2 linked regions of the Homo sapiens genome follow. The protein of the gene in region 2 interacts with the protein of the main gene of each other region in a pairwise test. Each region holds a gene or a part of one and is shown on either strand. Other genes may lie near its edges.

Region 1 (8,870 bases), on a different chromosome or scaffold from region 2:
TTTGCATTTTTTAGTAGAGACAGGGTTTCACCATCTTGGCCAGGCTGGTCTCGAACTCCTGACCTCATGATAGACCCGCCTCGGCCTCCCAAAGTGCTGGGATTACAGGCGTGAGCCACCGTGCCCAGCCTATATTTATCCTTAATAAATAAATGTTTACCACTGCACCATCTGTAATAGCAGAAAACAGAAAACAAAAATGGAAGCAGAGAAAACAATCTAAGTGTCCAGTATCAGAGGAGTGGTGGGATACATTAGGACACACCCACAGGATAAAACAGTTTACAAACCATTAAAAACAACACATAGAACAGTCGATAAACACATGAAAAGATGCCCAACATCCCTAGTCATTAGGGAAACACACATCAAAGCCACAGGGAGGGCCAGGAGTGGTGGGTCAAACCTGTAAATCTAGCACTTTGGGAGGCCAAGGCAGGAGGATCGCTTGAGGCCAGGAGTTCAAGACCAGCTTGGCCAACACAGTGAAACCCGGTCTCTACCAAAAATACAAAAATTAGCCGGACGTGGCTGCGCACACCTATAATTCCAGCTGCTTGGGAGGCTCAGACAGGAGAATGACTTGAACCTGGGAGGCAGAGGTTGCAGTGAGCCGAGATTGCATCACTGCACTCCAGCCTGGGAGACAGAGTGGGACCCTGTCTCAAAAAACAAAAACCACAACAACAACAAAAAACCACAGTGAGGCAACCACTTCACACCCACTAGGATGGCTACCTTTTTTTTTTTTTTCATGGAAAATAACAAGCGTTGGCAAGGATGTGGGAAACTGGAACCTCTGTCCTTTGCTGGTGGGAATGCAAAATGCTGTCACTAGTTTGGAGATCAGTTTGGTGGTTCCTCAAAAAGTTAAACATAGAGTTAACCATATGACCCAGCAACTCCACTCCTAGGTATATACCCAAAGAACCAAAAATCCATACTCAGGCCAGGTGAGGTGGCTCATGTCTGTAATCCCAACCCTTTAGGAAGCCAAGGTACGCGGATCACCTGAGTTCAAGAGTTCGAGACTAGCCTGGCCAACATGGTGAAACCCCATCTCTACTAAAAATACAAAAATTAGCTGGGCGTGGTGGTGTGTGCCTGTAATCCCAGCTACTCAGGAGACTGAGGCAGGAGAATCGCTTGAATCCAGGAGGCAGAGGTTGCAGTGAGCCAAGATCACGTCATTGCACTCCAGCCTGGGCAAAAAGAGTGAGACTCCACCTCAAAAAAATAAATACATAAAAAATAAACAAAATTAAAGTTTTTTTTTTTTGAGATAAAATCTCACTTTATCACCCAGGCTGGAGTGCGGTGGTGCAATCTCAGCTTACTGCAGCCTCACCCTCCCTGGTTCAAGCAATCCTCCTGCCTCAGCACCCCTAAGTAGGTGGGACTACAGGCACCCGCCACCACACCCAGCTAATTTTTGTATTTTTGGTAGAGACAGGGTTTCACCATGTTGCCCAGGCTGGTCTTGAACTCTTTGGCTCAAGTGATCCACACAGCTCGACCTCCCAAAGTGCTGGGATTACAGGCGTCAGCCACTGCACATGGTCTAAATAAATTTAAGAGACCTATCAACCTATTACAATGGGTAGACTTTATTCTGATTCTGATTTCAGTAAACAAAGTTAAAAAAAAAAGAGTAAGATAACAGGAAACTAGAATAGCAACTAGAGATCAGAGGATATTAAGGAATTATTGATTGCTTTTGCTTTATGAATTTTTCAAAGAATCTTTATCTTTTAGAAATACATTTTGAAATGGATTAAGTATGATGATGTCTTGAATTTGCTTCAAAATCACAAGAGTGGGGGTGGGGGGGGAGGGCACAGATGGTACAAGATTGGCAGGGAACTGGGGATTCGGAAGCTGAGTGATGAGTACAAAACATTACACTTTTTTTTTTTTTTAAAGAGACAGAGTCTTACACTGTCACCTAGGCAGGAGTGTAGTGGTACAATCCTAGTTCACTGTAGCCTTTAACTCCTGGGCTCAAGGGATCCTCCTGCCTCAGCTTCCTGAGTAGCTGGGACTACAGGCATGTGCCACCACACCTGGCTAATTTTCATATTTTTTGTAGAGACAGAGTCTCTCTATGTTGCCTAGGCTGGACTCAAACTTCTGGCCTAAAGCAGTCCTCCCACTTCGGCCTCCCAAAGCACTGGGATGATAGGTGTGAGTGACCACAGGCGCCCACTCAGCATTACACTATTCTCTCTGCCACTGTGTATGAATGTTTCCATAACAGATAATTTGTTTTGTTTTGTTTTTCAGACAGAGTCTCACTCTGTCACCCAGGCTGGAGTGCAGTGGAGTGGTTTTGGCTCACTGCAACCTCCGCCTCCCAGGTTCAAGCAATTCTCCTGCCTCGGCCTCCCAAATAGCTGGGATTACAGGTGCCCGCCACCACACCTGGCTGATTTTTGTATTTTTTGTAGAGACGGGGTTTCACCATGTTGCCCAGGCTGGTCTTGAACTCCTAACCTCAAGTGATCCACTTGCCTCAGCCTCCCAAAGTGCTGGGGTTACTGGCATGAGCCAGTGCGCCTGGCCCATAATAGATAACTTTTTAATCCCTTCCCCAAATTCCCAACAACCTGAGTGTCCAACACTGTGGAACTGGTTAAATTATGGCCCAGCCATGTGATGGAGCATTATGCAGCTATGAAAAATGATGGCTCAACATTTAATGATGTGGAAAATAAGCCTCATCTCAGTTTCTGAATAAGTCAATGACTTACATCACTGCAAGTGATCTAGGAATTATGAGCTATCAGGAACCTGAGGAGGCAAATAAATCATTAAAATGATAGAACACAAATTGGATATAATCACTACCGCGTAGGCACAAGGAACAGCCCTATAGAAGAAAGAAGGCCATTTCCCAGCAGAGCTAATAGAAAGGGGGATCATATCATGCGAGGGCTCTTGTCACTTTGACAAGCTTGTCATGGAAATAATATGACATGGTGATTTGCAAAAGAGGACTGTGAAAAATTAGACAACGGATCAGCATTCACCATGGGACATGTCAAGGTACACGTCAAACATTTCTATGATGGAAATATTGGCCAGGCGCGATGGCCCACACCTGTAATCCCAGCACTTTGAGAGGCTGAGGTGGGTGGATCACAAGGTCAGGAGTTCGAGACCAGCCTGTCCAACATGCTGAAACCCCATCTCTACTAAAAGTACAAAAATTAGCCGGGCGTGGTGGCAAGCACCTGTAATCCCAGCTACTTGGGAGGCTGAGGCATGAGAATTGTCTGAACCCAGGAGGCAGAGGTTGCAGTGAGCTAAGATCACGCCACTGCACTCCAGCCTGGGAGACTCCATCTTGGAAAAAAAAAAAAAAAGAAATATTAATAACAGTGATAGTTCCTTTATAAATTGGTTTTAATTATATAATTTCTGTGTGACTCAGTTTACTGAGTGTTAAGTTTTGTAAGTGTTCAATTCTTTTAAAATCACTCTGGACACTAAAATGTTCACTGTGATTATATCTGAGTCATACATAAGGGGTTTTTTTTAAAATAAACTTTTTAATTGAGGTTTTCTCATTAAACATATTTTCAATGTCTCTTCAATGAAAAAGGATTTCTTGTGAAAAATAATAATAATAATAACAGACGCTTCAAAACAGTGTAGGCCTGGCCAGGCATGGTGGCTCACGCCTGCAGTTCCAGCACTTTGGGAGGCTGAGGTGGGTGGATCACCTGAGGTCAGGAGTTCGAGACCAGCCTAGCCAAGATGGTGAAACCCCATCTTTACTAAAAATGGAAAAATTAGCCAGGCGCCATGGTGGCAGGTGCCTATAGTCCCAGCTACTCGGGAAGCTGAGGCAGGAGAATTGTTTGAACCCAGGAGGCAGAGGCTGCAGTGAGCTGAAATCATGTCACTGCACTCCAGCCTAGGTGATGGAGTGAGACCCTGTCTCAAAAAAAAAAAAAGAAAGAAAGAAAGAAAAAAACAGTGTAGACCTCCTAAACAAAATGCCAACAAATCAAATTTTATGATACATAAAAAAATAACACATCACAGCAAAGTGGAGTTTATTCTAAGAATGCAAGGTGACTTAGCATTCAAAAACCAATCTATGGCTGGGTGCAGTGGCTCACACCTGTAATCTCAGCACTTTGGGAGGCCGAGGTAGGAGGATCACTTGAGGTCAAGAGTTCCAGACCAGCCTGGGCAACATAGTGAGACTCTATCTCTACACTACAGAAAAAAAACAAAACAAAACAAACAAACAAAAAAAACACTTTTTTTTTTAAATTAGCCAGATATGGTGGCAAATGTCTGTAGTCCCAGCTACTTGGAAAGCTGAGGGCTGAGGTGGGAGGCTCGTCTGAGTCTGGGAGGTTGAGGCTGCAGTGAGCCATGACCTGGTGGCTGGGTAACAGAGTGAGACCCAGTCGCAGAAAAAAAAAAGAAAGAAAAAGAAAAAGTGATGGATATCACTTCCAAGATTATGCTATAAAAAGACACTGGCTTTCATCCTGGCTCTCTTTCTCTCCTTCTCTCTTGGAAAGCTCTGAGGGAAGCCGGCAGCCATATTGTGAGGCAGCCCTGTGCAGGTGTCTACATGGCAAGGGAACAAGGCTGCCAAACCACATGAGTGAGCTTGGAAGCAGGTCATCACCAGCCAAACCTTCAGATGAGACCACAGCCCTGGCCAATGGCTGACAAGTATCCCAATTTTCCCGGGACTGAGAAGTTTCCTAGAACAGGGAACTTGCACTGCTAAATCCAGGATAGACCTGGGCAAACCCTATTGACAGCTGAACTGCATACTCCTGAGAGTCCTTGAGCCAGAGGCACCCAGCTTAACTGTGCCAAATTCCTAATGTTTGTTCTTAAGCTGCTGTTTGTGGTAATGTAATATGTAGCAATGGATAACTAACCTAGCACATCACAAATGAGCACATTAAAATGGGTGATACACTTATAACAAGGCATTCAACGTCACTGCTTATCAGAGAAATGCAAAGTAAACTTAGAACAAGTTATTACTCCATACTCACAAAAATGGCTAAAATTTGAAAAGACAGAAAATACCCAGTGTTGGCAAGGATGTGGAGCAACTGGAACTCTCATACACTACTAGTGGGACCGCAAAACAGCACAACCACTTTGGAAACTGTTTTCTAGTAACTACCAAAGCTAAATATTACACATATCCTATGTCCCAGCAATTCTACCCTTACATATACACCAACAGCAGGCATCCACTGGTTCACCAGGACGTGGACAAGAACGCTGATCTCTGGACAATACCTTGGACGTTATTCACACCCACTCCCCGCAGACTACATTGAACACTCCACAAAGAAGAGGCAGGAAAAAAGGGGAGAAGGGAGGAGAGGAGAAGGAAAGAAGGGAGACAGCTCTCTACCAGCAACAGGGGCCTCTGCCAGGCGTGCTATCATTCTGTGACAGCTAGGAGCTTAGTTAGGTCTTCAACCGGCTGCTCAGAGAGGGGATAAGAAATTGCTCTCCCAGGTCCCTGGCCCTGGTTGGGAACTAATTTTCAAAGTGTCTTCCACCCAGGACAATTCTTTTCTTTTTTTTTTTTTCTTTTCTTTTTTTTTTTTTTTTTGAGATGGAGTCTCACTCTGTTACCCAGGCTGGAGTGCAGTGGCACGATCTCGGCTCACTGCAATCTCCACCTCCTGGGTTCAAGCGGTTCTCCTGCCTCAGCCTCCCAAGTAGCTGAGACTAGGTGCGCACCACCACGCCCGCCTGATTTTTGTATTTTTAGTAGAGACGGGGTTTCACCATGTTGGTCAGGCTGGTCTTGAACTCCTGACCTGGTGATCCGCCTGCTTCAGCTTCCCAAAGTGCTGGGATTACAGGCGTGAGCCACCGCGCCCAGAAAAATTCTGTTCAAGCAAACTCGCAGGCTGATCTGGGTCTATAAAAATGATCAAAACAGAGGAGCTCTGACCAATTTGAAGGCCCCCCTTCCAGCCTCCTCCTCCCAGCTATGTCCCTGCTAGGCTGACCACAACACCCCCAGAGACCCAGGTAATTACCTGCCAACCGTAGGTGTCCTGCTGCTGGGTTTTCACCCCTGACCCATCCCAGACCCACCCCAGGCCCCGAGTCTGCACTCACCCAGCTCCAGCCTGGGACTATACCAGCCCGTCGTAGAGGGACAGCGCCTGCACAATGGACGGGTCTGCCTTGGAACCCTCCTGGAACTCCTGCAGGGTCAGCTTCCCGTCGGCATTCTGTGAGCAGAGAGAGGCGGCTGAGGGTGCAGGGCCTCCCAGGAGAGGGCTCTAGACAAGCCCAGCCCAGGGCCGGTCCCAAGAGCCCTTCCAAGGTTAGATCAGGAGGGAGGCAACGTGGCTCAGGGCCTACAAGCAGCCAGCACCAGACAGACCTCGGCACTCATGGCAGGGTGGCCTTGGGCCGTGGCCCACCTCTCTGGGCATGTTTCTTCACCTGGGGATGGAGGGTAATTACCTGGCTTCCTCCAGGCACTCGGGTGACAGCTCTGTGCTTGACCAACTGGAAGTGCCCTGTAACTCCACACGTGTCATGGTTAATGCTATTAAACCCCATCAATGTGAGTAACTGACAAGGCTGAGAGCCTCGTGCAGTTCTCTGGGGTCACTCTTGGAAGGGCATTTAAACTGCTCCTGGAGCAGCCCACACTGGACCCTGGGAGACCCGGCAGGGGGCTGGACATGGCTCAGAAAGAGGAATTTTAGTGGGTCTCTCGGGGAGGGGATGTTTGGGCCAGAATCCCTTCCCCGGAGCATCTCTCAAGGAAGCCGGCGGACCACAAGGAAAAGGCCACGGAGAGCACCTACTCGATCTCGGGTATCCAGAGAGGGTAAGTGCCGAAAACAGCGCCGATGAGCACAACCGAGCTGTGCTCAGGGATCGCTCGCTGCGTACACGACATATGCCAAGCTCGGCGCAACCCTCAGTGTATGGAACCCTCACGGCCAAGCCAAGAAGGGGGTGCTGCTCTCATCCCCATTTTACCAGTGAGGAAGCTGAGGCTCCGTCACCTACCCAGGCCCCAGGGCTGGGAAACGGAGAAGTCAGATTCACACCCCAGTCAGTGTGACTACAGGGTCTGTGCTGTTTCCCAAAATGACGGAAGTGCAGACAGGGGGACAGTAAGGAATGTGCGGCCTTGGCCTTAAGCCACGTGGACGCACACCACGAGAAACTTATTATTCCGTGCTCCACACTCTGTCGATAAATCTTTTGATCATTACCAAGACGCCAGCTGGGTCTGAGGCCAGCACGTCTCTACCACTCCTCTAACATGGGCTAATCTCCCTTTTTTAATTAAGAAAGTACAGGCCTCAGGTCAAAGCTTTTAGGGCAAACAGCTGTCTCCAGCCAGAATCTAATAAGCAGCCCTGCGTTACAGGAATTTCTATGATTGACTGATCGATTGATTGATTGAGACAGGGTCTCACTCTGTCACCCAGGCTGGAGTGCAATGGCACCATCACGGCTCACAGCAGACTTGGTTTCTCAGGCTCCAGCCATCCTCCCACTTCAGCCTCCCGAGTAGCTGGGACCACAGGTGCACACCACCACACCCGGCTAATTTTTGTATTTTTTGTAGAGTCGGGGTTTCATCACGTTGCCCAGGCTGGTCTCAAACTCCTGAGCTCAAGTGATCCACTCGCCTTGGCCTCCCAAAGTGCTGGGATGACAGGTGTGAGCCACCGCACCTGACCATTTTATGTTATTTTGCTGAAGGCACGTAACACCTGGATTTCCCTAACGTCATTATTTCAAATTTACATTTAAGTTATTTTAGTTTTAAGTAAGTTTGATTTAAAGAAGGATTCCTTATTTCTTTGGAGTCCCTTTTTTTAGGCTTTTATTTTAGGCTCAAGGATACATGTGCAGGTTTGTTATATAGGTAAATCCTGTGTTGTGGGGGTTTGCTGTACAGACTATTTTGTCACTCAGGTGATAAGCATAGTACCTGATAATAGGTGGGTTTCGATCCTCACCCTCCTCTCACCCTCCACCCTCAAGTAGGCTCCAGTGTCTATGGTTCCTTTTATTTTATTTTTTTTCTTTTGAGACAGTCTCACTCTTATTGCCCAGGCTGGAGTGCAGTGGTGTGATCTCGGCTCACTGCAACCTCTGCCTCCCAGGTTCAAGCAATTCTCCTCCCTCAGCCTCCCGAGTAGCTGGGATTACAGGCATGTGCCATCATGCCTGGATAATTTTTTTTTTTTTTTTTGAGACTGCGTCTCACTCTGTTGCCCAGGCTGGAGTGCAATGGCGCGATCTCCACTCACTGCAACTGCTGCCTCCCGGATTTTTTTTTTTTTTTTTTTTTAGTAGAGAAAGGGATTCACCATGTTGGCCAGGCTGGTCTCGAACTCCTGACCTCAGGTGATTCACCCGCCTCGGCCTCCCAAAATGCTGGGATTACAGGTGTGAGCCACCACACCTGGCTTTGGTTCCCTTTAAAGAAGGGTTTCTTGGCCAGGCACGGTGGCTCACGCCTATAATCCCAGCACTTTGGGAGGCCGAGGCTGGTGGATCACGAAGTCAGGAGATCGAGACCATCCTGGCTAACACGGTGAAATCCCGTCTCTACTAAAAATACAAAAAATTAGCCAGGTATGGTGGCATGCGCCTGTAGTCCCAGCTACTCGGGAGGCTGAGGCAGGAGAGTTGCGTGAACCCAGGCGGCAGAGCTTGCAGTGAGCCGAGATCGCGCCCGCCACTGCACTCCAGCCTGGGTGACAGGGCGAAGATTCTGTCTCAAAAAAAAAGAGAAGGGTTTCTTAACCTTGGGCCTGTGGATAGAAGTCAGCAGGTCTATGAACTTGGGGGAAAAAAAATCAGCCTTTTTTTACTAACCT
Region 2 (7,981 bases):
GACTGGTGGACTGTGGAGCAGCAGGCAGGGCCCAGGTCCTGGTAGGTCTGCTGGGCTAGGCAAGGTGGGAGGACTTGTCCTAAAGACAACAGCCCTCCACCAAAGTATTGAAGCAGGGGAGTGACAGGCCAGAGTGGTGTTTCTGTACCACGTGTGGGAACAAGGCTGGGAGGGCAAGAGTGGTGCAGGGAGACCTGTGTTCACTTGTGCTTTACGGCTTGCCACTGGCACATCCCATGGGCTTTGAATGAGTCAATCTGTGCAGGGATGCTCATGGCCACAGGCTTCCCGTAGAGGCCTGGCCTGCTGCTCTTGGGTACCAGGGACGTCCTGAGCTTACACAGGGCTGCGAGAACATGCGCACATGTCACAGCAGTACCACTCAGCCCTGCACCCCACCTCTGCAATACCCTGCTCTTACCTGCTTCAGTTTACATTAATGAATATGCACCCTCTCCAGGGCATCAGCAGCACGGCCCTGCACAGTAGCTGTGTGCTTCCAGGCTGGTGCATGTCAGAGAGCCCTCAGCCTCACCTTCCTTGTCCCCTCCTCCTCCTGAGGCCAGACTCATAACCTCTCTCAGAGAAAGGGAGGTGGCACCCTCTGGGAAGCTGATGGAAATGCGTCCCTCATGTGCCCTGGTGAGCATGCCTTCGCATGAGCACACATCAGAGGGACCACGGGTGCACTGCACGTGAAAGGCAGGCATGTGTGATCCCAAATACCTGTTGCAGCGGCGGGCACAGGGAGGCCTGCAGCCCAGGCAGCCCTCCTCTCCAAGTCCTGGTCTCTGCTCAGCACATGGTGATGGGGCTGTTTCATGGGCCCCAACCCTGCTCCAAGCAGGCCTGGTGTCTGGGGGCCAGGTTCAAGACCATCTCCCATGTGGGGCAAGAAGCACCAGAAGTTTCTGTTTCACCTCCCACCAGGTGATCGCCTATGGGCAAGGCAGCAGCGAAGGCCTGAGACAGAATGTGGACGTGTGGCTGTGGCAGCTGGCAAGTGGGGCCCAGGGACAGGGTTGCAGAACCCCCTGCCAGAGGGCATCAGCCCGCTCCTCGGCCCTGGGCTCCCACACGGGGCCCACTCTTGGGGCCTTGGGGCCCAGGCAGACTCAGACATTCACCCAGGTGATGAGGCCCAACAGTCTCCATTTGATTCTCCTGCTCCTCTTCTCCAGGAGGGCTCCTCGGTGGTGACAATGGGGGGACGGCGCCTGAGCCTGGCCCCTGATGACAGCCTCCTGGTGCTAGCTGGGACCTCGTGAGTACGCAGGGAGGGCTTTCCCTGGGATCCTCAGGGTCCAACTCTGTGTGATCCCTGCTCATCTGTGTGTCCACAGGTATGCCTGGGAGCGAACACAAGGCTCTGTGGCCCTGTCTGTGACCCAGGACCCTGCCTGCAAGAAGCCCCTGGGGTGACCCTCTTGCCATGGCCTGAAGCAGCCACAGGTGTGCCAAGCACCCTCGAGTGCCATCCCTGCCAAACAACTCTCCCAGCCCCCACTACCTCTCTGTGTACTGCCGCTGTGTCCCCCACAGACCTGCACATTGTTGTCACCCACCCTCCTGCCCTTCTCAGCCCAGATGCCATGCCCCTGGGCGGGCAGCAGCTCCCCATCTTCTCTGGCAGACTCAGCCCACTGCCTTGCCAGTCTTGCCAGGTGGTCTACCCCCGGCCCCGCTCCTGCCCATTCCTCTGTCCCTGCAGACTCAGTGCAGCACTTCCACACCAAGAAGGCCCTCAATAAAGGCTTCCTGAGGAACGCACACCTGGGGGTCTGCCGCAGGCAGTCATCACTGGCCTTCCCATGTGCCCCCCAGGACCATGTGGTGTGTCTGGGGCATCAGGGCACCAGGTGACCATGGACGTGTTGGAGGGTCTGTTATTGGGCATCCCTGTTTGTGGATGGGCATTCTTCACTGTGTGTGTGACTTGATCCACGCATGCTCCATGCCTGGTCCTGGGAGCACGGCTAATGTCATCTCTCCACTTCCTTCTCTGTTCTCATTTATTCTTTTTACTTTTTTTTTTTTTTTGAAACAGGATCTCACTGTCACCAAGGCTGGAGTGCAGTGGTGTGATCAGAGCTCACTGCAGCCTTGACCCTCCTGGCTCAAGTGATTCTCCCACCTCAGCCTTCTGAGTAGCTGGGACTACAGGCATGCACCACCACACCCTGTTAATTTTTTTTTTCTTTTTTGTAGAGATGGGGATTTCACCATGTTGCCCAGTCTGTCTTTTTACATAACTTTAAAACACTAGCATCTGTTGAGTTTTTTTCCAATAACAGAAGTCATCTGTGCTAACTATAGAAAACCCAGAAATACACAAAATCCCCCACCCAGAGCTAACCACTGTTAATACCTAAAGACTATGATCAGCCTGGAGAGGGGCATGAAGTTGTACCAGGAGCTCAGCAGTGTTGGTGGGGGTGTCTGGCCTTGTGTCCCCTTCCCTCCCCTGTCATGCACAGGTGCCCTGTTCAAAGACTCCAGAGGGACCCCTGAGCCTGCTATGGGTGTCTAGGGATGCTGGAGGCCTCAGAGGCACCAGTGGGAAGAGACAAGAATGTGGAACCTGCAGCGGGCGCAGCTCAGTTTCCTGGGACTTCCGTGAGAAGTCAATGAGGGCATGCACATGAGAGTGACAGATCTGGACAGAACAGGTCCCTGCGTGGACTCAAAGCTTCCTCTAGAAAAGAACACTTGACCCCTGTCTCCCTCATCCCCAGCCCAGTGGCTCACTGCCTTCCTACACTCCACTGGGAGCAGAGAAAGACCTGCCTTTGCTGAAAAGGCTACTGGCCCTAAGAGACATCGGGACCTTCAACCTCCTCGTCACCCCTAAGGGCTTTCCTCTCCTGCAAGCAAAGAAAAAACACCATCAGGCTCCTTCAAACACAAATGGTCCAGGATAGGCACAGGCAGAGGCTCCACGCGGCTCGTTCCTGGCCTGTAGCAATGCACTGCTCCGTGCAGGACCTGAGAAGAAGACATAGAATGTTCCAGGGAGGACCCAGGTCAGAATACCGATGGCCGTGAAGAGAAGAGTTTACTCTCATATGCAGGGCAAGCTTAATCCAGAGAGAAAGTCATGAAAATTAGATCTGTTTTTGTGAACACTCGCTCTGTCCCAAGGAATCCCCTAGAAGTTTGTTTTTTTTTTTTTTTTTTTTTTTGAGACGGAGTCTCACTCTGTTGCCCAGGCTGGAGTGCAGTGGCGCGATCTCAGCTCACTGCAAGCTCCGCCTCCCAGGTTCACGCCATTCTCCTGCCTCAGCCTCCCGAGTAGCTGGGACTACAGGCACCTGCCACCACGCCCGGCTACTTTTTTTGTATTTTTAGTAGAGACGGGGTTTCACCGTGTTAGCCAGGATGGTCTCGATCTCCTGACCTCGTGATCTGCCCGCCTCGGCCTCCCAAAGTGCTGGGATTACAGGCTTAAGCCACTGTGCCTGGCCTATAAGTTTTTACATAAATTATCTCATTTTATCCTCACAACTCTCCAAGAAGGTGGTAGTGCCTGATTTTACAGATCAGGCTCAGAGAGGTTTGGAAATAGGGCAGCTCTGTTTCCAACCCAGGCCTGTCTGCATATGGAGCTTAGGCTGGGCCTCACCACCCTGCTTCTCCCAGGGATGTTTGCCCTCAGCCTTGACCAAATGGGAGCCCAGGGCAGCCAAGAGAGGCCAGGGGCCACTGTGCCTGGGACACAGAGGCCAGGCCACACATGGCAGACTGCTGACCCCAGCCAGTTGGCAGTGATGGGGTCAGGCCCTGGAGCCTGGAACCAGCACCTCCCTTGGCCCTGCTGTCCCGGGTTATCAGGAGCCTGAAGCCCTCATCTCCACCCACAGGACCAGCCCATGGGCTCATGAGAATACCTCACCATGGGACAGCTGGACTTGTACCTTGTCTGGAGCTAGCCCCAGCCTCCCACTCCCTATTCCGCAGTGAATGCTAATGGGGGCAAGGAGTGGAGTGGACAAGGAGCCATGGGGAGACACAGACAGGGAAAAATCAGGATTGTTCTATTTGCGGGAGAAGCCCCCAGCTCCCCGTGCCATGGCAGTAGAAATTTGGCAGGGGCGTCCCCGTCCATGGGGCCTACTTCACCGTGTACCCGGACTTGGGACCATCACAGACTTCGGAACCATCAGGAACCTGGGAGCAACTGAAAGCTGAACTACAGTGGGCTTTCAGACACACAGCAGGCTGGCGGAGCACAAATAGGACTGGTTCCCTCCAGGCCACCAGCAGGGCGGTGGAGGTCTTCACTGACTCCCTGCCTACCTCTCAGGACAATGTCCTTTTGGCTCCACAGTCCCTGAAGCCAGAGCTGGTGGGGGCAGGGAGGCAGCCACCAGCCTCTATATGTAGTGGAGGAGGGGGTGTCCAGGGAGGGCTGCATGATCCTGAGAGCCCCCACCTCACCCGGCTGGACTATCCTCCCACTTCAGGGTTTCTCTGGGCTTCCATCTTGCCCCTGCTGAGCCCTGCTTCCTCCTCTACCAGCAGCACAACCCCCAGGCTGGGCTCAGAGACCTCATGTGGTGGGATCACTCAGTACCCCGAGGCGGAGGGAAGGAGGGAGGGCTGCAGGGTTCCCCTTGGCCTGCAAACAGGAACACAGGGTGTTTCTCAGTGGCTGCGAGAATGCTGATGAAAACCCCAGGATGTTGTGTCACCGTGGTGGCCAGCTGATAGTGCCAATCATCCCACTTTGCCCTGAGCACTCCTGCAGGGGTAGAAGACTCCAGAACCTTCTCTCAGGCCCATGGCCCAAGCAGCCCATGGAACTTCATAACCTGAGCTCTCCATCTCCCTCTCTCTCCTCCTCTGTTCTCCCTCCCTCCTTCTCTCCCTCACCCTCCTCTGCTCCCTCTGCCTTTACCACTGTGGGGGGGTCCTCTGGAGGGCCCTGCCACCCCACCTCTTCCTCGCTGGTGTCTGCCTTCCTGGCACCAATCCTGGCCCTGGAGTTTGTCCTGGGCCTGGTGGGGAACAGTTTGGCCCTCTTCATCTTCTGCATCCACACGCGGCCCTGGACCTCCAACACGGTGTTCCTGGTCAGCCTGGTGGCCGCTGACTTCCTCCTGATCAGCAACCTGCCCCTCCGCGTGGACTACTACCTCCTCCATGAGACCTGGCGCTTTGGGGCTGCTGCCTGCAAAGTCAACCTCTTCATGCTGTCCACCAACCGCACGGCCAGCGTTGTCTTCCTCACAGCCATCGCACTCAACCGCTACCTGAAGGTGGTGCAGCCCCACCACGTGCTGAGCCGTGCTTCCGTGGGGGCAGCTGCCCGGGTGGCCGGGGGACTCTGGGTGGGCATCCTGCTCCTCAACGGGCACCTGCTCCTGAGCACCTTCTCCGGCCCCTCCTGCCTCAGCTACAGGGTGGGCACGAAGCCCTCGGCCTCGCTCCGCTGGCACCAGGCACTGTACCTGCTGGAGTTCTTCCTGCCACTGGCGCTCATCCTCTTTGCTATTGTGAGCATTGGGCTCACCATCCGGAACCGTGGTCTGGGCGGGCAGGCAGGCCCGCAGAGGGCCATGCGTGTGCTGGCCATGGTGGTGGCCGTCTACACCATCTGCTTCTTGCCCAGCATCATCTTTGGCATGGCTTCCATGGTGGCTTTCTGGCTGTCCGCCTGCCGATCCCTGGACCTCTGCACACAGCTCTTCCATGGCTCCCTGGCCTTCACCTACCTCAACAGTGTCCTGGACCCCGTGCTCTACTGCTTCTCTAGCCCCAACTTCCTCCACCAGAGCCGGGCCTTGCTGGGCCTCACGCGGGGCCGGCAGGGCCCAGTGAGCGACGAGAGCTCCTACCAACCCTCCAGGCAGTGGCGCTACCGGGAGGCCTCTAGGAAGGCGGAGGCCATAGGGAAGCTGAAAGTGCAGGGCGAGGTCTCTCTGGAAAAGGAAGGCTCCTCCCAGGGCTGAGGGCCAGCTGCAGGGCTGCAGCGCTGTGGGGGTAAGGGCTGCCGCGCTCTGGCCTGGAGGGACAAGGCCAGCACACGGTGCCTCAACCAACTGGACAAGGGATGGCGGCAGACCAGGGGCCAGGCCAAAGCACTGGCAGGACTCAGGTGGGTGGCAGGGAGAGAAACCCACCTAGGCCTCTCAGTGTGTCCAGGATGGCATTCCCAGAATGCAGGGGAGAGCAGGATGCCGGGTGGAGGAGACAGGCAAGGTGCCGTTGGCACACCAGCTCAGACAGGGGCCTGCGCAGCTGCAGGGGACAGACGCCAATCACTGTCACAGCAGAGTCACCTTAGAAATTGGACAGCTGCATGTTCTGTGCTCTCCAGTTTGTCCCTTCCAATATTAATAAACTTCCCTTTTAAATATATTTATTTGCAAGACCAAATATCTGTCTTTAATTCTAACCTGGGACTGTCAGTAGGCGTCAAAGTGAGCGCCCCAAGGTGAAGGGAAACTTGGGAGAGAGTGGGGAAGCCATCCCACAGCCCCATCCCAGGGGGCACTGTCCTTCCCAGAACTTCTGGGAAGCCCCGGCATGTCCTGAAAGGCAGAACTGCTTTCTTGGGTGAGGCCTCAGGCAGGCCACCAGGGCTCCAGGCCCTCGGGTACAGAGTTTGATGCTGGGGACCTAACATCCCTCCCCAGTTCCCTCAATCCACTTAGCCCAGCCCTCTCATATCATGGACAGGACGCACCCCAGCTACTAAAGTCGTCAGGAATAGAAGTGAAAGCCCAGAAGTGTCACACACAGACCAGGAGGGTGGCATCAAGGGTCCATGTGGATGCTGGGGAGGGAGCGAGAGAAAAAGTATCAGGCAGAGGGAGGTGGGCCCGGGAAGGATGAGCGGGTGAGTACCAGACCCCGCCTCCACCGTGTATCTCCAGCCCACTTCCCTGTTCTGAAAATCTACCTGCTGCACTCAGAAACCTACCAAGGTACTGGGGTGCCACCTGGGCCCCCCCCAGGGTTGCTCTTCTGTCTCTCGGCTCCCCATGGGCCCCTCTTGCCCCCTCAACTCCTACTGCTCCCTTTTACTCCCTGGAGCCACGCCTAGGGGGTCCCTGCTTCTCCACGCCCTCTGTCACCACAGGGAAGGGAGTCCAACCCTGGGCGGGGCCACCTCAGCCTGAGTCAGGTCTTTTAGGAAAGGCCTGCACACTCCTGGAGGATGGGGACTGAGCAGCTCCTTCGGGTGGATCCCCACCTGGGGCGCCAACACTTACCGCCAGCTCAACACCAGGCACCTTTCCTCTGGTACCATCTCTGCCCCTGAATGCGCCCACCTGGGCTCAGGGCAGCTCCACGGGCCATTTCCTCAATCTCCTCTTCCCTGGACCCTTCTCCTACCAACTCCTCCCTCAAGTCCTCGCACCTCTCCCAGCACCTGCCCTCACTCCTTCATGACCTGATGGAAGGGAAATGGACAGATACTCCCATGGTTTGCAGGCATGTCTGCAGTCCTGTCTTTTCCCATCAAGGGAGAGAGCAGAGGCTGCCCTTGAGGAGTTCCTGGGTAGATGCTGGTCACAGGGTTCAGGCCCGCACTCCTAACCTGCCCTGGATTCTCCTTGCTCCCCATCTTGACCCTGAGGACTGCTTCCTCACTGACAGTCTGGGTCACACCACCCTTCCCCGCCTTTCCATCATTTGCAAGGCCTTCTCTAAACGGGGTTGGGTGCTCCCTCGCGAAGCAGGCTTCAGGCTGCCGCCACATGGAGGTAGGACTGACTCCCTGGTCCGAACTATGGCCCCAGCCCACTGTACCCTTCTCTGGACTTAGTTCTCCATCTGTGAATAGGAATAGTAATCCTGGCCCTTGCCCAGCTCCAGGGGCTGGGGATGGGAGTAACTATATGCCCAGAGCACTTGGTGAGGAAGGCAGTTATTATGTGGAGCAGGGAAGGGAGAAGGAAGAGGAGTGGGAAGAGAAAGAAAACTGTGTTTAAGTGTAGGGTTTCCTAGAGATGGAGTAGTACCCCGTGGTGGT

What was found. Proteins that work in one complex are often made in the same cells at the same time.
Region 1: the proteins of OXER1 (region 2) and NCS1 interact in binary tests that used the Homo sapiens proteins (3 or more experiments, as listed by UniProt).

What each region holds. Positions count from the first base shown.
Region 1 is NC_000009.12:130,223,761-130,232,630, reverse strand, and holds part of NCS1 (neuronal calcium sensor 1), read right to left. Parts: intron 6,243-8,870; coding exon 6,144-6,242; 3' UTR 6,127-6,143; intron 1-6,126. UniProt on the Homo sapiens protein: Neuronal calcium sensor, regulator of G protein-coupled receptor phosphorylation in a calcium dependent manner. Directly regulates GRK1 (RHOK), but not GRK2 to GRK5. Can substitute for calmodulin. Stimulates PI4KB kinase activity.
Region 2 is NC_000002.12:42,760,878-42,768,858, reverse strand, and holds OXER1 (oxoeicosanoid receptor 1), read left to right. Parts: upstream 1-4,723; 5' UTR 4,724-4,796; coding exon 4,797-5,951; 3' UTR 5,952-6,360; downstream 6,361-7,981. Other genes in the region: HAAO (3-hydroxyanthranilate 3,4-dioxygenase), read left to right, coding at 931-999, 1,182-1,264, 1,344-1,422. UniProt on the Homo sapiens protein: Receptor for eicosanoids and polyunsaturated fatty acids such as 5-oxo-6E,8Z,11Z,14Z-eicosatetraenoic acid (5-OXO-ETE), 5(S)-hydroperoxy-6E,8Z,11Z,14Z-eicosatetraenoic acid (5(S)-HPETE) and arachidonic acid.